Linked DNA regions of Homo sapiens. The protein of the gene in region 1 interacts with the protein of each later gene in a pairwise test. Each region holds a gene or a part of one and is shown in the gene's direction. Other genes may lie near its edges.

The links.
Region 2: the proteins of MISP (region 1) and LMO1 interact in binary tests that used the Homo sapiens proteins (3 or more experiments, as listed by UniProt).
Region 3: the proteins of MISP (region 1) and FHL2 interact in binary tests that used the Homo sapiens proteins (3 or more experiments, as listed by UniProt).
Region 4: the proteins of MISP (region 1) and PNMA2 interact in binary tests that used the Homo sapiens proteins (3 or more experiments, as listed by UniProt).

Annotation. Positions count from the first base shown.
Region 1 is NC_000019.10:754,111-761,135, forward strand, and holds part of MISP (mitotic interactor and substrate of PLK1), read left to right. Parts: intron 1-336; exon of another isoform or gene 337-699; intron 700-2,779; 5' UTR 2,780-2,836; coding exon 2,837-4,616; intron 4,617-5,798; coding exon 5,799-5,929; intron 5,930-7,025. UniProt on the Homo sapiens protein: Plays a role in mitotic spindle orientation and mitotic progression.
Region 2 is NC_000011.10:8,260,858-8,268,109, reverse strand, and holds the start of LMO1 (rhombotin-1), read left to right. Parts: upstream 1-4,231; 5' UTR 4,232-4,747; coding exon 4,748-4,772; intron 4,773-5,259; exon of another isoform or gene 5,260-5,352; intron 5,353-7,252. UniProt on the Homo sapiens protein: May be involved in gene regulation within neural lineage cells potentially by direct DNA binding or by binding to other transcription factors.
Region 3 is NC_000002.12:105,382,032-105,389,056, reverse strand, and holds part of FHL2 (four and a half LIM domains protein 2), read left to right. Parts: intron 1-2,516; 5' UTR 2,517-2,540; coding exon 2,541-2,696; intron 2,697-3,157; exon of another isoform or gene 3,158-4,946; intron 4,947-7,025. UniProt on the Homo sapiens protein: May function as a molecular transmitter linking various signaling pathways to transcriptional regulation. Negatively regulates the transcriptional repressor E4F1 and may function in cell growth.
Region 4 is NC_000008.11:26,504,201-26,510,897, reverse strand, and holds the end of PNMA2 (paraneoplastic antigen Ma2), read left to right. Parts: intron 1-1,220; 5' UTR 1,221-1,350; intron 1,351-1,654; 5' UTR 1,655-2,142; coding exon 2,143-3,237; 3' UTR 3,238-6,197; downstream 6,198-6,697.

The DNA of each region.
Region 1 (7,025 bases):
AGTTCAAGACCAGCCTGGCCAACATGGTGAAACCCGTCTCTACTAACAATACAAAAATTAGCCGGGTGTCCTGGCTGGGCGCGGTGGCTCACGCCTGTAATCCCAACACTTTGGGAGGCCGAGGCGGGAGGATCACGAGGTCAGGAGATCAAGACCATCCTGGCTAATATGGTGAAACCCCGTCTCTACTAAAAATACAAAAAATTAGCCAGGCGTGGTGGCGGGCGCCCGTAGTCCCAGCTCTAGGGAGGCTGAGGCAGGAGAATGGCGTGAACCTGGGAGGCAGAGCTTGCAGGGAGCCGAGATCGCGCCACTGCACTCCAGCCTGGGCGACAGAGTGAGACTCCGCCTCAAAAAAAAGAAAAAATTAGCCGGGTGTGGGGGCGGGTGCCCGTAGTCCCAGCTACTCAGGAGGCTGAGGCAGGAGAATTGCTTGAACCCGGGAGGTGGAGATTGCAGTGAGCTGAGATCACGCTACCGCAGTCCAGCCTGTGCATCGCAGCGAGACTCTGTCTCAAAACAAAAGACAATACCTAAGACGGGTGCTGGGTACAAGGCCTGACATGAAGGAGGTGTTCAGATGATGGCTCTGGGGGAGGGGCAATCTGGGTTACTTCCTGGAGGAGGTGTCCATGGGCTTCAGCAGAGGAAGCCGTGGAGAAGCAGAAACAGGCAGCCTCGAGACAGAGAGAGCTGCAGGTAGAGGAGGAGGGCGAGGTTTGGGGTGGAGGAAGAGGGCCTGGTTTGGGGTGGAAGAGGAGGGTCTGGTTTGGGTTGGAGGAAGAGGGCCTGGTTTGGGTGGAAGAGGAGGGTCTGGTTTGGGTGGAAGAGGAGGGTCTGGTTTGGGGTGGAAGAGGAGGGCCTGGCTTGGGGTGGAGGAAGAGGGCCTGGTTTGGGGTGGAAGAGGAGGGCCTGGTTTGGGGTGGAAGAGGAGGGTCTGGTTTGGGGTAGAAGAGGAGGGCCTGGCTTGGGGTGGAGGTGCCCACAGAAATTGGGGTTTCGTGCTAAGGCCAGGAGCAGGGTGTGAGAACTGTGCCCTGCAGATGCCAGGAGCCACAGAAGCGATGCGAGCAGGTGTGTGACCTCCGGGAAGGCTCCTGGAACTGAGCCCAGCAGCAACCTGGACCCTTGGGAGAGGGCGAGAGCCGGAAGGCACTGGGTCAGGGTGTCACCCGCTCGCTCCACGGCCCCACCTGGGCCCAGCGGGACAAGGTCCACGGTGTTCCTTTGCCCATCCTGGCTTTATGGCGACAAGGCCCAGGCGGGGATGTTGTCTCAGATGGGACGAGGTGTCCAGCTGGGCAGGGCAGGGTGGAGAACCAGGATGTGGGAGCCGGGAAACTGGAGTTGCTGTCAGTCCTTCTCTCTGGGCCTCAGTTTCTCCATTTGACATCCCTTAGCAAGGGGCCATCTGTAATTGTCAGATGGAAAAATCCCACACCAGGAGTCTCAGAGTGAGCTCAGGGTGGAAAGGCTCAGTGCACAGGAGACACAGATAAATATGGTGCGGCCAAGGAAGGCTTCAGAGATCAAGGCTGAGGCCAGGCGCGGTGGCTCACGCCTGTAATTCCAGCACTTTGGGAGGCCGAGGCGGGCAGATCACCTGAGCTCAGGAGTTCGAGACCAACCTGGCCAACATGGTGAGACCTCGTCTCTACTAAAAATACAAAAAATTAGCCGGACTTGGGAGGTTAGCGCCTGTAATCCCAGCTACTCAGGAGGCTGAGGCACGAGAATTGCTTGAACCTGGAAGCAGAGGTTGCAGTGAGCTGACATTGTGCCACTGCACTCCAGGCTGGGCAACAGAGCGAGACTCCATCTCAAAAAAAAAAAAATCAAGGCTGAGCTGGACTCCACAGGGCAGGTGTGTGTGTCTGGGAGATAAGGTGGGCAGGGCACCCTGATTTTATTGGGCTGCAAATGTTAGAAACATATAATGCGAGTTGTTGGGGTAGTAACCGGGACATTCAGAGATTCAGGTATGGTTGGAATCAGGGAGCTTAAAAGTTTTCAGGATGCTTTGCTGGTGTTGGGGTTGCTGTCAAGCAAGCTGTACCCACTGGGGGCATTTACGTCCCCAGCAATTCACTATCTCATTCCATCAGCCTAACAAGACCAGCGGGAAGAGGGTCCCATCTTCTGCATTAATTGTAAAGTCCCAGGGTCTCATGTCATTGGCTAGACTGGGTCACATGCTCATCTCTGAACCAATTACAGAGGCCAGAGGGTGAAATGCTCTCACTGGCTGGACTAGGTCACTTACCCATCTTTGAACCAATCACAGAGGCCAGTGGGTGGGATGCTCTGATTGATCAGGATGAGTCACTTACCCATCCCTGAACCAATCACAGAGGCCAGAGAATGGGCTACTCTGACTGGCCAGGCTGGGCCATTTACTCATCCTTGAACCAATCACAGAGGCCAGAAGGTGGGATGCTCTGATTGGCCAGGCTGAGTTACTTACCTATCCCTTAGCCAATCACAGAGATTAGACAATGGGCTGCTCTGAGTGGCTGTACTGTGTCACGCACCCCTAAACCAATCACAGAGGTTAGAGAATGGGATGCACTGATTGGCTGGACTGTCACTTACGCACCCCTAAACCAATCACAGAGGTTAGAGAATGGGCTGCTCTGAGTGGCTGGACTGTGTCACTTACCCATCCCTAAACCAATCACAAAGGCCATTTGATGGACCCTTTGCCCTTTGGGGGACTGGAGGCTGTTCCTCTCCCTAGGTGCTCTGACTTGATGGCCCTCATTTCCTTCTCCTCCCTCAGTAAGCCCAGAGGTCTCCACCCCACGGGAGGAAGGCTGAGGCCAAGACCCCGGAAGAGATGGACCGCGTGACCAGATACCCCATCCTGGGCATCCCTCAGGCACACCGTGGCACCGGCCTGGTGCTGGATGGAGACACCAGCTACACATACCATCTGGTGTGCATGGGCCCCGAGGCCAGCGGCTGGGGCCAGGATGAGCCGCAGACATGGCCCACTGACCACAGGGCCCAGCAGGGCGTGCAGAGGCAGGGGGTGTCCTACAGCGTGCATGCCTACACTGGCCAGCCGTCCCCACGGGGGCTCCACTCGGAGAACAGGGAGGATGAGGGTTGGCAGGTTTACCGCCTGGGCGCCAGGGATGCCCACCAGGGACGTCCAACATGGGCACTCCGCCCAGAGGACGGGGAGGACAAGGAGATGAAGACCTACCGCCTGGATGCTGGGGACGCTGACCCCAGGAGGCTGTGTGACCTGGAGCGGGAGCGCTGGGCCGTCATCCAGGGCCAGGCAGTCAGGAAGAGCAGCACCGTGGCCACGCTCCAGGGCACTCCTGACCACGGAGACCCCAGGACCCCCGGCCCACCTCGGTCCACGCCCCTGGAGGAGAACGTGGTTGACAGGGAGCAGATTGACTTCCTGGCAGCGAGACAGCAGTTCCTGAGTCTGGAGCAGGCGAACAAGGGGGCCCCTCATAGCTCCCCGGCCAGGGGGACCCCTGCAGGCACAACCCCAGGGGCCAGCCAGGCCCCCAAGGCCTTCAACAAGCCCCACCTGGCCAACGGGCACGTGGTTCCCATCAAGCCCCAGGTGAAGGGGGTGGTCAGGGAAGAGAACAAGGTGCGTGCTGTGCCCACCTGGGCCAGTGTCCAAGTTGTGGATGACCCTGGCTCCTTGGCCTCAGTGGAGTCCCCGGGGACCCCCAAGGAGACGCCCATCGAGCGGGAGATCCGTCTGGCTCAGGAGCGTGAGGCAGACCTGCGAGAGCAGAGGGGGCTTCGGCAGGCAACCGACCACCAGGAGCTGGTGGAAATCCCCACCAGGCCGCTGCTGACCAAGCTGAGCCTGATCACAGCCCCACGGCGGGAGAGAGGGCGCCCGTCCCTCTACGTGCAGCGGGACATAGTACAGGAGACACAGCGTGAGGAAGACCACCGGCGGGAGGGCCTGCACGTGGGCCGGGCGTCCACACCCGACTGGGTCTCGGAGGGTCCCCAGCCCGGACTCCGGAGAGCCCTCAGCTCAGATTCCATCCTCAGCCCGGCCCCAGATGCCCGTGCGGCCGACCCAGCTCCAGAAGTGAGGAAGGTGAACCGCATCCCACCTGATGCCTACCAGCCGTACCTGAGCCCCGGGACCCCCCAGCTAGAATTCTCAGCCTTCGGAGCATTCGGCAAGCCCAGCAGTCTCTCCACAGCGGAGGCCAAGGCTGCGACTTCACCAAAGGCCACGATGTCCCCGAGGCATCTCTCAGAATCCTCTGGAAAACCCCTGAGCACAAAGCAAGAGGCATCGAAGCCCCCTCGGGGATGCCCGCAAGCCAACAGGGGTGTCGTGCGGTGGGAGTACTTCCGCCTGCGTCCTCTGCGGTTCAGGGCCCCAGACGAGCCCCAGCAGGCCCAAGTCCCCCATGTCTGGGGCTGGGAGGTGGCTGGGGCCCCTGCACTGAGGCTGCAGAAGTCCCAGTCATCTGATCTGCTGGAAAGGGAGAGGGAGAGTGTCCTGCGCCGGGAGCAAGAGGTGGCAGAGGAGCGGAGAAATGCTCTCTTCCCAGAGGTCTTCTCCCCAACGCCAGATGAGAACTCTGACCAGAACTCCAGGAGCTCCTCCCAGGCATCCGGTGAGAAGGGGCTCCAGGGAGTGGCTGCTTGGCTCAGGGTCTCAGAGGTTGGAGCAGGGGAGGGTGGGGAGGTGGAGTTTGAGGCTGTCAAAGGGCTGGGGTTGGGGAGACATTGCCTCCTGACTGTTCATCCCCTCAGTCGCTGGTTTGTCTGCCTGTCTATTAAAAATGTAGATTTTGGAGAGAAATGTCAACTTTACCTTAGGGCTTTTGCTTTATGGATTTGGATGCCTTGTTGTTAGGCGCATAAATGTTCATATATGTTTTGTGTGTTTTGTTTTTGTTTTTGTTTTTTGTTTTTCGGTTTTCTTTTTTGAGACGGAGTCTCGCTCTGTCGCCCAGGCTGGAGTGCAGTGGCAGGATCTCAACTCACTGTAACCTCCACCTCCTGGGTTCAAGCGATTCTCCTGCCTCAGCCTCCTGAGTAGCTGGGATTACAGGTGCCCACCACCACTCCCGGCTAATTTTTGTATTTTTAGTAGAGACAGGTTTCATCATGTTGGCCAGGCTGGTCTTGAACTCCTGACCTCAGGCGATCCACCCTGCCTTGGCCTCCCAAAGTGCTGGGATTACAAGCATGAGCCACTGCTCCCGGCCTGTTCATATATGTTTATCCTCTTGGACAGTTGCACCTTTTTGACAATATGAAATATTCCTTGTGTCACTTTTAATGTTTTTTTTTTTTTTTTTTGAGATGGAGTCTCGCTCTGTCACCCAGGCTGGAGTGCAGTGGCGCGATCTCGGCTCACTGCAAGCTCCGCCTCCCGGGTTCACGCCATTCTCTCGCCTCAGCCTCCTGAGTAGCTGGGACTACAGGCGCCTGCCTCCACGCCTGGCTAATTTTTTTGTATTTTTAGTAGAGATGGGGTTTCACCGTGTTAGCCAGGACGGTCTCGATCTCCTGACCTCGTGATCCACCCACCTCGGCCTCCCAAAGTGCTGGGATTACAGGCGTGAGCCACCGCGCCCGGCCACTTTTAATGTTCTTCACCTTGCATGTCGGCCCATCTGTGCATCCAGTTTCTCCTGACTGGCTACTTTGGTCAATCTGTCAGTTTCCCGGATAGTCATCTGCTCTGTCTGTCCATACATCTGTCTCCTTAGCTGCTGGCTAGAGACTCTGTCTCCCGAGCAGAGGTCTGACAAATGTTCTAATGTTCTGCCCTCCCTGCTCCCCTACAGGCATCACGGGCAGTTACTCGGTGTCTGAGTCTCCCTTCTTCAGCCCCATCCACCTACACTCAAACGTGGCGTGGACAGTGGAAGATCCAGTGGACAGTGCTCCTCCCGGGCAGAGAAAGAAGGAGCAATGGGTGAGTCTGGAACCCGTCTCTGCAGAGGCCAGGCTGAGGTCAGACAGCCCCTATTAGGGCCACAGGAAGTTCAAGCAGGACTCAAGCCTGACCTGGGTTCAAGCACTACCCCCACCCCTGGCCGTGCCTCAGTCTCCTGCAGATGTCAGGTAGAAGATGATAAACTTGGTGTCCTTGTATCTCTGGGCTTCTGCTTGGAGAGGCCATATAAGCTGGGGTCTTTGTCCCCATCAGGAGGTCATCTCCAGGATCAAAGACCAAAGGACCAACTCTGCTTGGAGGAGGAGGACACTGGCAATTTGTCATCGTCACCAGCATTAGTTTCTTTTTTTTTTTTTTTTTTTGAGACGGAGTCTCACTCTGTCGCCCAGGCTGGAGTGCAGTAGCACGATCTCGGCTCACTGCAACCTCCACCTCCCGGGTTGAAGTGATTCTCCTGCCTCAGCCTCCTGAGTAGCTGGGATTACAGGCGTGCACCACCACGCCCGGCTAATTTTTTTGTATTTTTAGTAGAGACGTGGTTTCACCATGTTAGCCAGGCTGGTCTCAAACCGATCTCAAGTGACCTGCCCACTTGGGCCTCCCAAAGTGCTGGGATTATAGGCATGAGCCACTGCACCTGGCCACAGATATTTACTTCTAAGAAAGAGAGAGAGAGAGAGAGAAGGCAGGAGGGAGGGAGGGATGGAGGGAAGGAAGGAACAAAGCGAGGAAGGAAGGGAGGGAGGGAGAGGGAGAGACGGAGGGATGTGTCTGTCACACGCTGGCTCGGGGCTTCCAATGAACCACACCTTTAGCACCCTGGTGGTCTCACATGCCCAGGGTTAGGCAGCTCATGAACCCAGGCTTGACTCCAGGACCTACAGGCCACAGAGCTTTGCCTTAGGGGTTTTACTTTATGAATTTTGATGCCTTGTTGTTAGACATGTAATTGTTCATGTATGTTTATCCTCTTGGATGAGAGCTCCTTTTGTCAGTATGAAATATTCCTCACGTCACTTTTAATGACACGAGGAATATTTAGTGCCATGAGGAATATTATGTCCTTTTTTTTTTTTTTTTTTTTTTGAGATGGAGTCTCGCTCTGTCACCCAGG
Region 2 (7,252 bases), on another chromosome or scaffold:
CCGGAGCGCCTCTGCGACCCGCACCGCGGGCTTCCCGGCAGTGCCCACTGCCAGCCAGTCTCCCAGCCTCTCTGGGTGTCTGCACGTTCCCCTTCCGCACCCTACTGCGGAACGGATCCCAGCGGGGTGGTGGGGGTGCCCACAGATCCTGCAGGTGCAGGGGTGAGGGTGCCGTCAAACCAGCACTGTCTCTGCGGTCTGGCACTCCGTAGCTGCGGGATGGCTGACAATTGTCTCCGCCCCTGGCAGGGCTAGGGAGGGAACTGCCATCAGTTCACCCAGCCTGGCATGTTGGGAGGTGCCACGCTGGCTGGGGTAGGTGGGTGGGCCATCTAGTCCAAAATATCAGGTTCAACTAGAGGCGGTTTTACCTTGAAGCTAATGAAGTTTAGGGTCCTTCAGGTTCCTTCAGCTGCCAGGTCCTTGGTGGTAATTTGGTATTAGTAGTCTTGTAGTCCTTTTCTTAAAGAGCCCCACGCCCAAACTACAGTAAGCTTTGGACCTCACAAAATTTCCATCCATCCCTGGGTCCAACTCCTACCCTTTCCACTGCCAGTCTCTTGGAAGAACTCACAGCTCTGGCTGACCCAGAGACCATCCGCCGAGGCTGGGACAATCCCTTAGTGCCTGAAGGACGAAGTGCTGGGGCAGGAGGCTGGAAGGTTTGGGGTTGAGAGGCAACTTCTGGGCTGCAGGGAAAGGGTCTGGCTGCCTGGCCTTCCTCTCTGGCCCAGCTAGTCCCTTGACCCATCCTACCACCACTCACTATAGTGATCAATTGTCCTTGTTTGCTCAGGACGATCTCAATTTTAGTACTGAACATCCTGTATCCTAGGAAACCCTTGAGTCACAAGGCAAACTTGGACAGTTGGTCAGTGCACACCCAAAACCTTCTCAGGGCTGTGGTGCAGGGGTAGGGGAGATTTCTTTGCTATGGTGCAGATTTGGCTTAGGCCTCCACAAGGCCTAACAATCTATAACTGCTGCTTGCAAGAAGGCCTGTCCAGGCTCTCCAGAAACCAAAAGAGGAAAAGTTTGCCGACTGTGCACTTCTTCACTCCAGCGGGTTGCAAATTCCTGTGCATTGGCTGCTTTTGTGTAAGCAGGGGGAAGGGAAGGGCATCTGAACATGGCCAGCAGGCATCCTGATTGCACTGCGAAGTCTGTAGGTTTACTCTGTCCTGTCAACTGTGGTGGCCACAGAGAAGGGGTCCTCGTCACCCCAATACCTCTCTGAGCATCACCTGTGTGGCTAGCTTGTAACTCCGTCTTGGAGGCAGCTGCATTGTGTTGGGAGCAGGCCCTCTGGCTGAGGCACATCTGACAGTCTCCACCAAAGACTTCTGTAATATCTAGTCGGCCTGGGCCCTCAGGCCCTGGGTCCCACTATCTCCCACCCCCACTCCTAATGCAGGAACTCTTCCTCGGGACTTTCCTGCCAGGTGGAGGGGCAAATTGCTGGGACCTGCCCAGATATTTGTAAGACAGCCAGTAGCACCCACTTTCTCCTTAAACTAACCTTGGGGATTGATAGTTGTCCTCTCCCTGCCATTCCCAGAGGCATTTCGAGGGCATTTTGGAGCACTCTTGGCTTGTCGAAGTGAGAGTACATGCTCATCACCTGTGGAATGTGTTGGGGGAAAACTACCTCCCCCAGCCCCAGGGGATCTGAGGATTCCACTCTGGTGCTGTGGGCGTGTCCCTGGACCTAGAAGCAGCTTGGGTGGGGTGAGCATGGGGGTGGGGCGAGTATGGGGGTGGGAGTTACTTGCTTGCCCAGTGAGTGGAGAGAGGCCATCAGATGGGGTGAGTGATGTTTCTATCTGCCTCTGTCAACCCAGCAAGCCCCTTCCTGGCTGGAAGCTCAAGCCACCCAAACCCTCCAAGACTTGCTGTGAAGGTTCCTCTCCAGATCAGTTTGGGAGCACCATGCTCACAGCTGGGGGTGCAGAAAGAGCCACCTGTGGGCACACACAGCACCAGTCCCCTGCTGGCATGCCCTACCTGCTTCTGCAGCCCATTGCTCAGCACCCCAGGCCTGCTCCAGTCCCTGGGTTTGGGGCACAGGGCCCTGACTCCCCAAAGGGATGCCAGTCATGTGGCTGCCAATTAGGTACCTTGGAGGCTGAGGTGAGCTGGTATTCAGACAAACTCGTGGACAAGAGAGTGGAAGAGTGGCCACAGCTAGCCCAGTCCTGGTTTGTGGGTCAGGGCCAGCCCCTGAAAGTGAGGAGAATCTGCCCCTGGAGGTCAGTAGTAAGGCTGCATGCAGCCCCGATGGAGTGAACGCCTCCAGTAGCACAGAGGTTTCTACGGCAAGAAGTTGCCCCTTGCCAGCCTGTCAGGCCCTGTGCTTGCTACACTGTCTAGCCCCCAGCTCTGGTGGGTGTGAGGGGCTGGCACCAAATATGCCGGTGGCAGCGGTGCCAAAGCCTCCCTCAGACCCTGAGGGCATGGGTCTGGCGGCAGTGGCAGGGGAGAGATCAAGCTCGCAGTCCTGAGGCTGGTGAGTCTGAGCAAAATGATATATTTAACATCAAATATACTCAAGGACTATTAGGATTAAGTATTCAAGATGAAGGGGAAAGTGAAACCCTCTGAGCTGCAGATGAGGCATCTCATTAGAAGCAGCGCTTTTCTGTTTTCTCAAAGCCTGACTTCCCTGCCTAGCAGAGAGGAATATGGCTGCAGCCCGCTGCTCCCCATCCCTGTCAAGCACTGGGGCCTCCCAGGGCTTAAAGGGTAAGACCTAGCCTCCAGGTCTCCTTCAAACCAGATAATCTCCCCCCATCCCCCTGCATTGTCTGGAGTGCCACAGTTTACAAAGCACATTAACATGCATTAGCTCATCTGACCCCCACAGCAACCATAGATACAGGAAGAGTAGGTCTCCCACCTCACAGCCAAGGAAACTGAGGCCCAGATAGAGAAAGAGACTTGCTAAGGTCCACTGTTGGTAATTGGCAGAGATGAGATAGAATCCCAACTGGTGGCCCTTCAGCCCGTTTCTCTTTCCCTGGGTCTAGTCCTCAGAAGTGATTGCCAGGACCAAGCCTCCAACACATCTGTCTGGAGCCCTCCTTGGGCTGAAGAAAAATCATTATTTCTATCCCACCTTGGAACTCTGTACTGTCTAGGCAAAGAAAAAAGACTTGGGATTTAAAAGTAGGTGGCCTTCCGGCCAGGCGCAGCAGCTCACGCCTGTAATCCCATCACTGTGGGAGGCTGAGGTGGGTGGATCACGAGGTCAGGAGTTCGAGACCAGCCTGGCCAATATGGTAAAACCCCGTCTCTACTAAAAAATACAAAAATTAGCTGGGCGTGGTGGTGTGTGCCTGTAATCCCAGCTACTCGGAAGGCTGAGGCAGAAGATTCGCTGGAACCTGGGAGCCGGAGCTTGCAGTGAGCCGAGATCACACCACTGCACTCCAGCCTGGGCAACAGAGCAAGACTCCATCTTAAAAAAGAAAAAACAGAAAGAAAGAAAAAGGAATGAAAAGAAAAAAAGTAGGTGGGTAGGTGGCCTTCCTAGGGTAGGCAGCCAGAACATCAGCCCCAGGATTCTGGGGAGAAGCAGGGTCCAGGAGAAGAGATGGGCACTGTCTCTTTTCCTGCCTTATGAGTTACAGAGCAAGAATCGTCAACTCCATAATAGCAGCAGGAATCTTTGTTTTGTTCAGTGCTGTATCCCTAGTGCCTTAGAACTGTGCTTGGCACATAATACATGCTCAGTAAATATTTGTAGAATGAGAAAAGCTTTCAAGGCCATGCCTGTGCTTGCTTCGAGAGAAGTTGAGATAAGCTCTCCCGCTCCATGGAGTCAGGATGCTTTTGGGGGTGCTGCTGGGGTCAGGAGTAGTGCTGTAAGACTCGGTAGGATCGTTTGTGCCCTGAAGAGGGTTAACTTTGCCAAACAATCCGGGAAGCAACACGAAACCCCGGGCAGAACTGGTAGGAAGGAAAAGGATGTGATCAGAGAAATATTGCTCTGAAGAAGAGACAAAAATCAAGGCTGAGGGTCTGGGAGTGACAGATGGGATGCGTCCTCCAGACAATCATTGAAGACCACGACCCTGGGATCGGAGCAAAGACGCTCACCGAGCTAGGACCTAGAAGCCTCCAGGTGGCGCTGCGGAGCCGGACAGCCGTGCGTCTCCACTCCCCATTAACCCGGGAGGGTGGAGGCCTCAGGAAATGTGTGCATTTATGCAGTAGCAGGAGTGCAAACCTCATACATTGAGGGAGAAAGGCAGCGGGAGACGGCCACGAGATTCCCCCATCTCTTTGAATATAATTTTAGATTGAGATTCAGATTAAATCCGAGGGGAAAACACTTTATGAGGCTGAAAGCTGTGTCGTTGCCAGAGACAGGGTTATGAGCTATCAAATGCAATTACATTAAGACAGATTATACTGGGCAAATTGAGCCATTTAGAAGGTGAGAATCAAAGAAACGGCTCTGATCCTCTTTTCCCCCTTCTCTCTCCCTCTCCCTCTCTCTCTAAATTGCAGTTCGTAGTTCCTTCCAATTCTGAGGCACAAAAGTAGGTGAGACTGCTTTTGTATCTGCGAAGTGCTTCACTCCTGAATGTAATTCTAGCTGAGTGCAATCTAGGTTAAGAGCCGGACAAGCGGGTAATTAGAGCCCGCTAGCTGCCCGAAGACCGGCCGCCCCTCCAAAGCGCGCCCCGAGTCGGCGCCCTTCTCCCGGCCGAGCCTAGCTGCGGCTGGACACGGAGCGCCCGAGATGATGGTGCTGGACAAGGAGGACGGTAGGTGGCGGGCCGGGGTCTCGACGCCCCTCACCCCCTCGCCCCCTGCCGCGGCGCGCAGGCACACACACGCGGGGACACGGGCGCACACCTGCTGGGCTGTGCGGGGATTGCGGGGCGGGCGGCGCGCTGGGGGCCGGGGCTGGGGCGGGGGGAAGTACCGGGGGACAGCCGGGCGGAACTTGCGGGGGGAGGAGGTCGAGCCCCGGGCTGCACGCGCCCGGGGCCGCACGCCCCCCGGGTCCCGGCCGCGAGCCGAGGAGCTGTGCACTGGCCGTGTGCTGCGCCGCGGGGCCGCGCGGAGGCTGGGGCTCCCTTGCGATCTCCGCGCCGCGGAGGTTCGCTCTGAGCATTTCGTGTCTGAGGCTGCTGCTCTCACCGCAGCCATCACCCTCGCGCCAGCCGCCGCGTAACCCGAGAGGCGCTGAGCGCCGAGCAAATCAGCGGCTTCGGGGAGAATCGGGCTCCAGAGCTCGGGGCAAGCGGGAGCGCGGGAGGACGGCGCGAGCGCCAGGGTGCCCGGCAGGCGAGGGGAAGGCGGGTTGGACCCTCCGGGGGACATCTGCATGAGCGTGACTCGGTGAGAAAGAGAGCCGCCTCTTGTGCCGGCCCGCTAGCTCCCTGTCTCTCTGAGCGCGGAGGCGGGAGTTTGGCCCAGAGGAAGAAAGTGTCCCGCCGCCGGCCGGTAGCACTTGTGCGGGAGCGGCCTGCGAGAGTGGCACGGACCTTCCGTGGTCGAGCCTCAGTGCGCCCTAGAAAACTGCAGGGCACGGGAAAGGTCGGAACAGAGGAGCCCATGGCTGCTGGAAGCCACTAGCAGGTGGTCCCATAGACCCCAAAGCCTTACTGGCAGGGAGTGCCCTGCAGTTAAGTGTCCTAGAAGGCTGGGGATCCCAGCCCCCTTGGGGGGAAAGCCAAGTGGGTGCCCTAAGATGAGTCCCCAGGGTAAGGAGAGAGGCAGTACCTTGGCTGTCCCAGGACCTCCTGCCCTGTAGGTGAGGCCTGTGTGTTGGTGTTGCAGGGGCATTTGTATGTGACTGTTGGTGCCCACGCTGCCGCCGGCGTTCTGCCATTGGTGAGGTACCGAAAGGGTAGGTTTGCTTTGAGTCAGCGGGAATCCTCTTAAAGTGACTGTAGTGGCCATCCTCTGCCCTTCCGTTCAGGAGTCTCTGCTGGGCCTGAGCCCTCTGTCCCTGGGGCAGCGTTGTTATTGATGTGGCCAGTTGGTGAAAATGCAAAGCTAAGTGACTTGCTCAGGGTCACACAGGATGTTCGCATTGCCGCTGCCAGGTGCCGATGCCCCCAGGCTGCTACCGCCTTCTGAGACATCCAGCAGGGAGGGGGAATTTGAAGTATCTGGCCTGGGGGTGGCATCTAGGAGGACCTGTGGCTCTCAGTATGTGTGTAGGAAGAGAGAGGATGGGGGGAACCTCAGTGCTTCTGGGCTAGCTGGGGTGGGACATCATCTTCAATATGTCTTCTCTATTCACGGACCCCTTCCCTGGAGCCCCATGTAGGCCATCGGAGAACTTCATATAGAATGAAAAGGAGAAGAAGGGGTCTGGGGTTGGGCCAGACAGGGAGGGAAGAGACCTTGATTTGGTGCCTTTCATCACGAACTCCCCATGTTCACCTTCCCTCTTGGTAAAAATGAAGGGCTTGGAGAAGCCAGGGGAGAGGGTACTTCCTTGGTACCTGGAGATACTGTCACTATGGGGAGCATGCAAGGTTCATCTTTAGCAGAGGTTATTTGGCATACTTGGCTCCCCAGGCCCAAGCCAGGAATCCAGAAGACTCGGGCTCTGTACGTGAGAGGCCTCAGGCCAGGGAGATTGGTCTCATGCCAACAAGATGACACCCCCTACCTGCACCCAGGATCTTGCTCTGCCCAGGCACCACATGATGCCTCTGGCTCTGAGATAATACAAAGGGTTTCAGATGAGCCTTGAGTGAGAATGGATTTCTGGAGGTCATTTTAGCCAGCTCCCTGCCTCCAAATTGCAGTGTACCTCAAGCACCCTGGGCAGATGTTTCTTCTGGTTTCTGCTAGATCTGTGGAAGAGAGCTCCAGATGCCCCTCCATCCCCAGCCTGTCCAGCCTAAACAATATGGTGCCCACTACCATGGAGCTGCTGGGCTCTGGGGTCCATTACAGCACAAGCACATCCACTGGTGTCCTAAGCAGCCACCTATTCTTGTCCTACCCAGCCCATAGCTGTCTTTCAAAAGCGACGTTTCTGCTCATGCATCTGCACTCCACTCCCTATTAAGAGGAGTCTGGCCTCCCATAGTTCCAGGAAACCTTGAAGATGGCATCTTCAATTGGGGGAGGGAGAAAGGTTCTGGATGCACTCATCTGCTCCTCCAAACCAACCACCTATCTTCTTCTTGAACGCTTCTGCCCTCTCAGCAGGTGGCTATCTGAACTGGGTGGCAGCATTCCCCCACCCCCCGGCTCCCCCAAAGGGTGCGTTCCCTGC
Region 3 (7,025 bases), on another chromosome or scaffold:
GATCTTTTCCTTGCTTACAGTTGTCAGGATCGTGTATACGCAATAGTACAAAATTACTGTAATCACAAACCAGGCGGCAATATTTTATTTGCATCAGAAGGTCTGATTCTGGCATTTCACTCGCCTATCTTTTGAAGACTGCAAATTGAACCAAGTTTTCTTAGATCCTGTGAACTCTTGCTCAGAGTTACATAGCCAACCAGTGTACCTATTTTTTTTTTTTGAGACGGAGTCTCGCTCTGTTGCCCAGGCTGGGGTGCAGTGGTATCATCTCAGCTCACTGCAACCTCCACTTCCTGGGTTCAAATGATTCTCCTGCCTTAGCGTCCTGAGTAGCTGGGATTACAGGCATGTGCCAGTAAGCCCGGCTAATTTTTTTTTTTTTTTTGTATTTTTAGTAGAGACAGGGTTTCACCATGTTGGCCAGACTGGTCTCAAGCTCCCAACCTCAGGTGATCCACCTGTCTCGGCCTCCCAAAGTGCTGGGATTACAGGCGTGAGTGACTGCACCCAGCCCAGTGTACCTATTTAAGAACAGAGAAAACTTTCCACTTTTAGCAAATGGAATATTGCCATTTATTCCTGAAGAAAATTGTCTGTGTTTTTAATGCCCTATGGCCGTTTCTCCACACCAGCTATTCCTGTGGTAGGCTTTTTCTCTCCAGGATCATTCTAACATGATTTTATAGGAATGGTCATAAGAGGAGGGCCCATCACTTGCTGCTTATTCACACTGCGTATTCATCCTAGAAAAATGCAGTGTGCCGGGCATGGAGACCCCTTATTTTAAACTTTTATTTTAGGTTCGGGGTACATGTGCAGGTTTGTTATACAGGTAAACTCTTGTCACAGGGGTTTGTTGTACATATTATTTCATCACCCAGGTATTAAGCCTAGTACCCAAGTGTTATGTTTTCTGCTCCTCTCTCTCCTGCCATCCTCCCTCCCCGCTCAAGTAGACCCCAGCGTCTGTTGTTTACCTCTTTGTGTTCATGTGTTCCCTCATTTAGCCCTCACTTACAAGTGAGAACATGCAGTATTTGGCTTTCTGTTCCTGCATTAGTTTGCTAAGGATAATGGCCTCCAGCTCCATCCGTGTTCCTGCAAAAGACATGATCTCATTCTTTTTTGTGGCTGCATAGTATTTCATGATGTATATGTACCACATTTTCTTTATCCAATCTGTCATCGCTGGGCATTTAGGTTGATTCCATGTTGTCGGTATTGTGAAGAGTGCTGCAATGAACATTCATGTACATGTGTCTTTATGGTAGAATGATTTGTATTCCTCTGGGTGTATTCCCAGTAATGGGATTGCTGGGTCAAATGGTAGTTCTGTTTTTAGCTCTTGGAGGAATCACCATACTGCTTTCCACAAGGGTTGAACTAATTTACACTCCCACCCACAGTGTATAAATGTTCCCTTTTCTCTGCAACCTCGCCAGTGTCCTGTTCCTGTTGGAAGGGCTTGAGGTGTTGCCCAGAGAGCCACTGACTGCAGCCACTGCATTTCTGACTATTTGATATCATTGTTTTGGGAAGTGAGTCTTTCCATTTATCCTGCTCTCAGGGTACCTGGGCAGCTGCAGGATGATCTTACCCGCAGGGAGCAATGATTCATCCTCAGGGACTTTGGCAGTTTTTCTTGTGCAAGGGCAGCTTGCACTCCCAGGTCAAGGGTATTAGTGCCCTCATTGCATCTAATCTCAGGTTTCCCAGGTCAGATCTCCCTCCCTTTTGCCACTGTGATTTCTTCCTATTCAAATCATGAATCATAAAGAGGAGCTCACGGAAAATCTTTTTATAGAAATGGACGTATTATTTCTATGCCTGCCTTTCTATTTTGGAGGCAGGGAGAAGGGGAAGATGCAAGGCCGGGTCACAGCCGGACAGGATGGGGGCTCTGGTGTCAGCCCTTACCTGCATTTAAAACTGAGATAGCTTTTTCTGACACAGTAAAAAATAATTTGTGCTTTTCAAGAAGTGGAATGTGACCAGGCGTGATGGCTCACGCCTGTAATCTCAGCAGTTTGGGAGGCTGAGGTGGGCAGATCACCCGAGGTCAGGAGTTTGAGACCAGCCTAGCCAACATGGTAAAACCCTGTCTCTACTAAAAATATAAAAGTTAGCTGGGTGTGGTGGCAGGTGCCTGTAATCTCAGCTACTTGGGAGGCTGAGGCAGGAGAATCACTTGAACCTGGGAGGCGGAGGTTGCAGTGAGCCGAGATCGCACCACTGCACTCCAGCCTGGGCAAAAGAACAAGACTCTGTCTCCAAAAAAAAAAAAAAAAAAAAAAAAAGTGGAATGCATTCAAACACAAAACCGCCCTAGCTAATGAAAAAAGGTGTTATCATTAAAAATTATGACCGATTAAAGGGTGAGTTTTAATTATTCATCCAGAGGAATTAGCCACCTTTCGGCTAAAGATGACAGACAGTGGGACAGTTAATGCCTTTGCGTGCACCCCTTTCAGAGAGTGCTTAATGGGACTTGGATTTTCTTTTCTTTTTGATAGGTTGCTGAAAAGCCAGGAGTCAAAATGACTGAGCGCTTTGACTGCCACCATTGCAACGAATCTCTCTTTGGCAAGAAGTACATCCTGCGGGAGGAGAGCCCCTACTGCGTGGTGTGCTTTGAGACCCTGTTCGCCAACACCTGCGAGGAGTGTGGGAAGCCCATCGGCTGTGACTGCAAGGTACCTGCTGCGGGCCTCTGCGGGTCCCCGGCGCTCCCCTAGGAAACACGGGTTTCTCTGTGGTTTGTGCTGAAGCCCTGATCCACCACTGAAGTCTGTCTCTTGAGCCCCCTCTGAGGGGCGTGGACCCTGCGTGTAGCCTTTCGGAAGCTTCTTCCCTCTAGCGAATGTGATCTCTGCCCACAAGCACTGGGTGAGGGCCTTGCCAGGACTTTTGTGCTTAGTATCTCTAAGTACATTTTCTGTATTCTAGCAATTAGTGCCCTTATCTAACTACCCAGCTGCCTACCAATACTGGAACTTTCTTAAGGGTGGTGCTCTCTTCCTCTTGTCTGTTTGCCCCGTGGTGAGTAACGTGGAGCAGGTGCTGTGCTCAGTCAATATTTGATGAATGAATGTGTACATGAGAGAACCAGAGTTGGTTCCTGGATAAATGGGCACATAAAAGCACAAAGTCCTTGGAAGATTGTGAGCTCTTTTCCTTTAATGAGAGAAGGACAGGATTTGTATTGTTTCCTTTCAATGGGGAAATGTGTTCATGGCTCTCCTGGTATGTCACAGCGTGGTTCAGCAAAGACCACTGGTCACTTGTACCAACTGCCCCGTGGTTGAGGGTGGTGAACCCTGACCTGCGCTTCTCAGCAGACTCTTGTTCCAACCTGGATTGCTGAAGGACACCCTGGGGGACCCATCCATAGCTCTGAACTCTCTGATACCTTCACCCGCAAACGGCTTCTAAAACACTCCAGTGAAACCCCTCATGTGGCTGTCATCCTGAGTGCCGTGAAACTGGCTACAAAATGGGATTCCTTTGGCATCTCTAAAGGAATTCCCAACTGAATGGGCACCAAGTCAGTTCATGGCATTTTACTATCTCTTTTCTGCTCTCGTTGCTTTGTGCTCTGTAGGGATTTTTGCTGCTCTCCTCCCTGGTCGTTAATATCAGCACATTGCCGCTGACTGATTGACTTAGGCCATGCATGCAGTTGGATCATTCTAGCACATCCAACATGTGTTCCTTCTATTTCCTTCTCTGATCACATCATTCTTAGGAAAGACAGGAATCAGAAGGCTGCACCATCACTTTCTGTTCCCAGGGATTTAGTGACAGTTGAGGGATGGTTTCCATCTTGTAGCGAAAGAGACCTCTGCCTTGAGCAGAGACGAAAGAGGTACAGCACCAGCCCCCTAAACCAATGCTGCAGCCCTGTGTCTTTTGGCTTCAGGGCAGATGCTGTGCTGAATGTAAAAGAAACGAAACTCAACAGTGGTATTGTGCCAAACCTTTGAAATACCATAAGCAAAAATAGCTGATCTGGCTACTCTAAAAGTTGTGTATCTTCCTGTATCCTGTCTTGCCTGCTGCGTGTCTCACTGCACCTGACGACTTTTCTCTGTCCCTTTTCATGTATTTAACAGGACAAGCATGAGAGCTCAGCCACCAGACTGCCCAGTTCCAGCCCAGGCTCTGTGTCTCACTTGCTGTGTGGCCTTGGGTCAGTTACTTGACCCTTCCGTGCACATCTCCACATCTATAAAATGGGGAGAACCAGGCCAGGGGCATAGGCTCAAAGCCTATAATCCCAGCACTTTGGGAGGCCAAGGCGGGTGAATCAATTGAGGCCGGGAGTTCGAGACCAGCCTGGCCAACATGGCGAAACCCTGTGTCTACTGAAAATACAAAAATTAGCTGGGCGTGGTGGTGCATATCTGTAATCCCAGCTACTTGAGAGGCTGAGGCACGAGAATCACTTGAACCTGGGAGGCAGAAGTTACAGTGAGCCGAGATCATGCCACTGCACTCCAGCCTGGGACACAGAGTAAGACTCTGTCTCAAAAAAGACCCAAAAAAAACTGGGGAGAACCAGGGGTCTGCTTCATAGGGTCTTTCTAGTATGTAGATACAAGCCCTTGCACTCGCACTCGTACTCTTCTAGCAGCTGACAGGGTAAGCTCCAGACTGCCACCTTTCTGCTGACTACTTCCTTATTCTTTTCGTGACACGTCCCTTCCACACACCTTTCAGAAGCTTCACCCTCTCTCTTTGTCGCTTTTCATTTTGGAAACATCAATAAAAATGTCCAGTTTGAGGAAGAAGTAGATAGCCCGAGAAAAATATAATTATAAAAGCTTTAGCTGGAAAAGAAATACTTACGTAGGTGAGAGGTTCAGATATCATCTGGCAAAAGGTAAGTCTCACTTTCAAGGACAGATTTTGGATATTTGGGGCTAATCATCCCTGACCAGTGGCTGAAATAAAAACAAAACAAAAATCACTTGCTGTTTCTCCAGTGATTTAGTGGAAAGACCCTTAAAAGCCGTCATCCTTCCACGCATGTTTTATGAGCAAATAAACAAGAGTCTCCCAAATGGAGCCAAAATCATCAAGGCTGCTGTCAAGCCAGGAGTGAATTGTGCTGAACTTTTCAACCCGGATTAATGTTTTGAGATACGTGGGGTTACACTGTATGATTTTGTACATTTTGGAACAAAAAGAGACATTGAGTTGAAGCGAGACCTTGGCATTTGGGGCTTTTGATGCTTTAGGCGTGCTTTTCTTGACTTTCAAAAATAATCGGGTAGTTGGGTTTGTAGTGGAAGCAATGATAGAAAAAAATGTTCCTGTTTTTTTCTGGAAGTAAAGCCCACAATCCTGGCAGGCGGGGAGATACCTGATAGAGGAACTGTGCTCTTAGGTCTGGTGGCCAATCTCTTCTCTTAAAATAGCACAGCCACCACAGGCCTCAGCTACTTCCCTCTAAAGGACATGTTCATGTGTGTGAGTTTTAAATGTTGGCATGCCTATGGGAATTAGGCTAATTTTGAGAGTCCTGACCTACTTAAATGAGACAGGCAAGACTTCAGAGCCTGTTATATAGTTTGAACATCCTCTCTATGTAGCCACTGAATTGTAATCTTTATTTCTATTAAGTTACTCTGGGAAAATGCTGTGATCTCAAAGGGTAAAGATTATTGATTTGTATGGCCAGTGTAATAGTGGAGAATAGACAATGCTAATACAATTTTATGATCCTCTGACATTACATGCTTCCTGAACCTTTTCTTGGATACCTGTTAGCATTAACAAAATATTTTCGTAGACTGATTACAGAGTTTTTGGGGGATCTGCCTACGTTCTGGGCTTCAAAAATTCAACCAACTAAAGAAAAAATAGGGCTGGGCACAGTGGCCCACGCCTGTAATTCCAGCACTTTGGGAGGCCGAGGCAGGTGGAACACTTGAGGCCAGGAGCTGGAGACCAGCCTGGCCAACATGGCGAAACCCCGTCTCTACTAAAAATACAAAAATAAGCTGGGTGTGGTGGCGTGCACCTGTAATCCCAGCTACTTGGGAGGCTGAGGCAGGAGAATCATTTGAACCTGGAAGGTAGAGGTTGCAGTGAGCCAAGATTGCGCCACTGTACTCCAGCCTGGGTGACAGAGCAAGACTCCATCTTAAAAAAATAAAAATAAAAAATAGGCTGGCCAATAACTCCAGAGACAGCTGCTAATACTGTGCATTTAACAAATTGGTGATTTTAAGCCCTGGGCGACACACGTAACCTAGACTTTGAATGTTCCATGGGTCTGCAAGCAATGCCATGAAATTGGACTGGCCACCATACCCACCCATGTGCTTGGAGGGTGCTACAAAGAGAAAAAAAAAATAATAAACAAGAACAAAAGATCTGCAGATCAGAAACTAGCATTCAGGGTTTAGTTTCTAGTGGTAGTCTTTGAAACCACTGTGTATTGCCTGATGACTTGTTCCAGGCACTTGTAAATGCCTAAACTGCATGATCTAAATTTCTCCTAACACCCTATAGGTAGGAACTTTTTTCATTCCATTTTATGGAGTAGCCGCTGAGGCCTAGAGAGGATGAGGATCTTGCCAAGGGTTAAAGGGATTAGGAAGTATCCGAGGTACAATTTGAGCCCAGACCCGGAGGGTCCTCACCTAGCATGTGATGCCACCTGCTACCTGCAGCCTCGGGCAGGACCCTGTCTATGTGACTCTCGGGCCAGATGTGGTCAGTCCTTATGAGTAAGAGATGGTGACCACCTGGCCTCAATCAAGTGACCTTCAGTCAGAGGCCCCTACTCTTCTCATGGGCCCCTTTAGATGGTGATGATTACATTGCAGAATTGAGGCTCAAGTTGTTTCACAAACTCTCTTTCCAGCTTTTGTAGCTAATAGGAAACATTGAAGTGATGATCAAATTGGCTGTAAAAGTCTCAGTTAATGTTTGGTAATGGACAGAAATGTTCAGTGATATTTTGGCAGAAAGCAACCTGGCAGGGCTCTGAAATAGGAGACGAAGGTTTTCAC
Region 4 (6,697 bases), on another chromosome or scaffold:
TACAGGCATGAGTCACCACGCCTGGCCAACTCTAACTTTTTTACGTTCTCTAATCCTCACAGGTTCTCCAGAACAAAATCCTTGATAGGTGTGCTTCCTCCTTTTTTCTTTTTTCTCAAATGATGGGTTAAAGTTCAAATGTTAGGAAAGGCTGGGTGTGGTGATTCAAGTGTGTAATTCAGCACTGTGAGAGGCTGTGGCGGGAGGATTGCTTGAGCCCAGGAGTTTGAGACCAGGCTGAACAACGTAAGGAGACTGCGTCTCTACACAAAATTTAAAAAACTAGCCAGGCATGGTGGCATGTGCCTGTGGTCCCAGGTACTCAGGAGGTCGAGGTGGGAGGATTGCTTGAGCCCAGGAGAGATCAAGGCTACTACAGTGAGCCGTGTTTACACCACTGCATTCCAGCCTCGGCAACAGAGTGAGACCCTGTCTCAAAAAACAGAAACAGAAACAAATGCTTGGAGAGTGTTGTGTTAGTAACTTATTGTCTTAGTCTATTTTGTGTTGCTATAAAGGAATACCTGAGGCTGGATAATTTATAAAGAAAAGAGGTTTATTTGGGTCACAGTTCTGCAGGCTGTACAAGAAGTATGGTGCTGACATCTGCATCTGGTGACCCCTCAGGAAGCTTCCAGTCATAGCAGAAAGCAAAGAGGGAGCAGATGCGGCAAGAAAGGGAGCAAGAGTGAGGGGAGGGAGGTGGCAGTCTGTTTTTAACAATCAGATCTCGAGGAAGCTAATAGAACAAGAACCCACTCATTACCCCAAGAATGGCACCAAGCCATTCATAAGGGATCCACTCTCATGACCCAAACACATCCCACCAGGCCCCACCTCCAACACTGGGGATCACATTTCAGCATGAGATTTGGAGGGGACAAACCTTCAAACTATTTCACTTACCATTCATAGCAAAAGCAAAGCCCAAATGTGTGTTTGCAAAGCCTTCCAGACACAACAAAAGAGAATTAATTCATAATTCCCGATTTAACTTAGTCGGCCCTGAGATTTTTTTCCCTGAATTGTTATACCTAGATTAAACTATTTTTAAACGTTTGAGTGATTCCTCATTAGTTTTGTTAATCAAAGAGGTAAAGCAACTTAATATTGAGTAGTATTGTGAAGGATTATCATATTTTTGAATAAGTGCATTAACGGTCTTCCTACTGAATATTAATGAAGCATAAATACCTGTTCTTATTGTTTATGTGTAACAGAGCAGCTTGGCTTGGCTGGAGCTAAGAGCCAGACACACCACTGTGTGGAGGTGGGTGATGTCTTCCTGTGCTAAAAGGTGAATAAATAAGCTCCTCACCTCTCGCGGAACACTCGGGAACACATCAACAGGTATTTAGCCACATCTCCTGATTTCATCTTTCAATGGCAAAGACCTTGAATCCTGTCCTTAACTGGGGCTCAGACATTAATCAACAGGTCTGATGAGCATATGGTGGGGACACCAGATTTCATTGGAGTCCCCAAGAGAAAAAAAAGTCACAGTGAGCAAAGAAGGGGTCTGACAGAGTGGGACAAATGCAAGCGCAGTGTAAAGCAGAACCGCCATCTGCCCCCAGTTCCATTCCAGATTAGAGTATGGATGCTTCCAAGGAAAGAGAGTGCTGTGTAGTAAAACTGAACATTGTTTCACCAGGGGTCCAAGCCGCCCTGCTGGGAGGCTTCTCTTCAAGAGTTCTGGGTCCCAGAGTGGAAGGCATTTTCCCATCAACTGGAGAGAGACGAAACATCAGAGACCAGGAGGCTGTGGAGAAAGCAGCTGTCCCAGGTGCCTCAACTATCAGAGAAGGGTCAGCGTCACGTGGCTGCCAGCATCTTTGAGAAAATCACTGGCAATCGGACTTCAGAGCTGCGGGCACAGGTGTGGTTAGAACTGAGATACGACCTGCCCACCTGGGTCAGGCCTAAAGACAAGAAGTCCTGAGTTCTTGCCACTGAGTAGGCCAGGGTCATTTGTCCAGAAAACTTTGTGACTGTCTTTGAGTGACCTAGTCTGGGACCCATTCATTGGTGGGTTCTAAGGTTAGAAGCTCATCCAGGATATTTTCAATATTAAGTCAGTGCATAGCTGCACCACTAACAAATTGGTGCCTGTAGAGTCAGAGTGGGTCAATTCTTAGGACAATGGCGCTGGCACTGTTAGAGGACTGGTGCAGGATAATGAGTGTGGATGAGCAGAAGTCACTGATGGTTACGGGGATACCGGCGGACTTTGAGGAGGCTGAGATTCAGGAGGTCCTTCAGGAGACTTTAAAGTCTCTGGGCAGGTATAGACTGCTTGGCAAGATATTCCGGAAGCAGGAGAATGCCAATGCTGTCTTACTAGAGCTTCTGGAAGATACTGATGTCTCGGCCATTCCCAGTGAGGTCCAGGGAAAGGGGGGTGTCTGGAAGGTGATCTTTAAGACCCCTAATCAGGACACTGAGTTTCTTGAAAGATTGAACCTGTTTCTAGAAAAAGAGGGGCAGACGGTCTCGGGTATGTTTCGAGCCCTGGGGCAGGAGGGCGTGTCTCCAGCCACAGTGCCCTGCATCTCACCAGAATTACTGGCCCATTTGTTGGGACAGGCAATGGCACATGCGCCTCAGCCCCTGCTACCCATGAGATACCGGAAACTGCGAGTATTCTCAGGGAGTGCTGTCCCAGCCCCAGAGGAAGAGTCCTTTGAGGTCTGGTTGGAACAGGCCACGGAGATAGTCAAAGAGTGGCCAGTAACAGAGGCAGAAAAGAAAAGGTGGCTGGCGGAAAGCCTGCGGGGCCCTGCCCTGGACCTCATGCACATAGTGCAGGCAGACAACCCGTCCATCAGTGTAGAAGAGTGTTTGGAGGCCTTTAAGCAAGTGTTTGGGAGCCTAGAGAGCCGCAGGACAGCCCAGGTGAGGTATCTGAAGACCTATCAGGAGGAAGGAGAGAAGGTCTCAGCCTATGTGTTACGGCTAGAAACCCTGCTCCGGAGAGCGGTGGAGAAACGCGCCATCCCTCGGCGTATTGCGGACCAGGTCCGCCTGGAGCAGGTCATGGCTGGGGCCACTCTTAACCAGATGCTGTGGTGCCGGCTTAGGGAGCTGAAGGATCAGGGCCCGCCCCCCAGCTTCCTTGAGCTAATGAAGGTAATACGGGAAGAAGAGGAGGAAGAGGCCTCCTTTGAGAATGAGAGTATCGAAGAGCCAGAGGAACGAGATGGCTATGGCCGCTGGAATCATGAGGGAGACGACTGAAAACCACCTGGGGGCAGGACCCACAGCCAGTGGGCTAAGACCTTTAAAAAATTTTTTTCTTTAATGTATGGGACTGAAATCAAACCATGAAAGCCAATTATTGACCTTCCTTCCTTCCTTCCTTCCCTCCCTTCCTCCTTCTCTCCTTCTCTCCTCCTCTCTCCTCTCCTCTCCTCTCTTTCCTTCCTTCCTTCCTTTTTTCTTTTTCTCTTTCTTCTTTATTTCTTGGGTCTCACTCTCATCACCCAGGCTAGAGTGCAGTGGCACAAAAATCTCGGCTCACTGCAGCCTTGACTTCCCAGGCTCAGGCTCAGGTGATCCTCACACCTTAGCCTCCCAAGTACCTGGGACTACAGGCACGCACCACCATGCCTAGCTATTCTTTTGTATTTTTGGTAGAGACAGGGTTTTGCTGTGTTGCTCAGGCTGGTCTGGAACCCCTAGGCTCAAATGATGTGCCCAACTCGGCCTCCCAAAGTGCTGGGATTACAGGCATGAACCGCCATGCCTGGCCCTTGATTTTTCTTTTTAAGAAAAAAATATCTAGGAGTTTCTTAGACCCTATGTAGATTATTAATGAACAAAAGATTAAACTCCAAATATTAAATAGTAAGCCTGAAGGAATCTGAAACACTTGTACTTCCAATTTTCTTTAAATAATCCCAAATAGACCAGAATTGGCCCATACCATAGAAGAAAGAATTGGCAGTCAAAAAAAAAAATACCTTTTGTAATGTTTGAAAAATAAAGCTGTTTGACTTGTCAGGTGTTTTCCTTTCTCAAATCAGCAAATTCTCTCTGAGTGCCTGGCTTTGTGAGACACTGTACAAGGAGTTACAAGACTACAGCTATAACCTGCAGTTGAGCAGTTATAAACCTACAAAATGGGCCCTGCCCTCAGAGAGGTTCCAGTCTAGATGAGGAGCTGATCTAGACAGGTAAAAGGCTAACTAACCCTTTGTGTAAATAAGTTCATCACCCCAGTAAAAGTGTCATCACCCAGTGAATAGGACCACCTCTGCCTGCAGATTTTTGTTGTTGTTGTTGTCATTGTTGTTGTTGTTTTAACCTGGGAAGTGTTCTTCCTGCCTTTCTGCTAGGTGTCAGATAGATGGTCCCAGAGCTAGGTGCTGTGTCAGGCCCTGAAGACACAGATGACTCAACCTAAGCTTTACTTTCCAGAGGTCCACAGCCTGAGAGGTGTCCCCAAAGAAAGGGGGACATGAGGGGACTGCATGCTTGAGAGCAGGGTTGTTTAGGGCAGGTTTGGATTTAGTGAGCAGGCTGGTTTGCTTAGAGAAGGCTTTTAGTGGCAACAAAGGATGAAGAGGAGAGAAAAGGAACTCACATTTATTGAGGGCCTACTGTGTGCAAAGTGTTTCATGTATATCTCATTGAATGTATACAGCCACCCTGTTGTGGTATAATTTTGCTCTTTATAAAGAGAAAGACCGAAGCTCAGATGAGTTAAGTGGTCTCCTCAACACCAAAATGCCAAGAAGTGATGGAGCCTAGACAGAAGCCCAGAACTTTCTGACTCACACTAGTCCATCCTCTACCATCACGATGACTTTCAAATTGTGCTCTGCAGTTCTGCAGATTTTCTAGCAGTGCCATCTCCAAAATGTGTTTTAAACTCTTTATTTTTTTAATTATTATTAGTATTATTTTGAGACTGAGTCTTGCTCTATCACCCAGGCTGGAGTGCAGTGGTGCAATCTCAGCTCACTGCAACCTCCGCCTCCCAGGTTCAAGCGATTTCGTGCCTCAGCCTCCCGAGTAGCTGGGATTACAGGCACCCACCACCACGCCCAGCTAATTTTTGTATTTTTAGTAGAAATGGGGTTTCACCATGTTGGCCAGGCTGGTCTCGAACTCCTGACCTCAAGTGATCCACTCACCTCGGCCTCCCAAAGTGCTGGGATTACAGGTGTGAGCCACCATGCCTGGGCTAAACTCTTTAAGTCTCTAGTAAATGCAGCTAGATTCAAATGGGCTGATAACCAAATTTTAACACATCAGCATTCACCACCAGGTTTACTTTTATTTTCAGATTGGCTCATTTTGTGCAGACCTTAGAGCAAAGTTTCCTTTATGGTATCTGTGTACGTATCCAAACTTCTTTTAATTGTTCACAGATTTTAAAAGCGGTAGCACCACATGGTTGTGTAGATCAGACCTGTGTATTTAGATCAGACCTGTGTATCACGTAAGTGTGTGAGTGCAGTGCAGATGAGCACCATTTAGTTATATGTGCTAGGCAAATCTCCAACACAGTTGATGTGTAGTCTTGTGGTAGATTTGTGCATACTGTAAGCAAATTGCTTAGCTTCTCTAGACATCAGTTTCCACATCTGAAAAATAAGAAGATGAGAGTACACGGTTGTTATGAACAAATGACTTAATGCTTTTTAAGCACGTTGCATGACATCTGGAACACAGAAAGCCCTCAATACATTGAAGCTCTTAGGATTTTCACGATGTTCCTGTCTGCTCAATGCATGCTTTCTTTATTGTTCTGACAGTTGTGTGGTAACAAGCTAATATGCTTCCAGTTGACTTCCAGTCTACCCTGGTGTTAGAAACCGTTTCATCTCTTATTGTAAATTTGAGTGCTTGTTGTTTTTTATATTTGTGATGACTCTTCCAGCAGTTGTTGACAATTGTTAGAGGTTTGACTTTTAAATAATTACTTATTTTTTCTGATTGTGGTTCAGTTTAACTGAAGAATATCCTGAGATTGTAAGAAAAGCATTTTTTAAAAGGTATCACTTGTGATCATTTATCTTTCTAAATTCTATTTTTAATACTGTTCCACCAAAGTGATGCAGTGGTTACCATGACACCCTAATTTCATGTGTTTTTGTATTTATGAAAATAGTTTCATTGTCATTTATTGGCGGTATACAAAGTAAAATGTTATAAATGTGAAGTTATAAAATAAATATATGCTAATAAAATCCTGAGTTTTTCTGTTTCCTATATCGTGGTCTCTATAAAGTACTGCTTGAAGAAGGAGCTTTGTTACTGAAAAATTTTGAGAGATAAGTTGAGAAAATCAAGCTAAAGCCAAAAGGTCTTAGAATCCTGTAGGCAAGAAAACCTGAAAGCAAAAAAATGCTTGAACAAGAATACTTGAACTATGTCTCTGGGGACAAGGGAGAGCTCGGTCCACCCATTATCGATTTCTCTTTTAAAATATACAGAAACAACAGATGGAGGTCAGTTGCCTCAGAGACCCCCCAGCTCATTTGCTTAGGAAAGTAACTGTACAGATAAATTCCCAGACTCTATTCTGCCAAGGGTGAATGACCCTGAAGGTCGAATATTGCTTTTCTGGGCTGAAGTCACCCTTTTTCTTCTTCTTCTTCTTCTTTTTTTTGAGACAAGGTGTCACCCAGGCTGGAGTATAGTGGCACAATCTCGGCTCACTGCAAACTCTGCCTACCAGCTTCAAGTG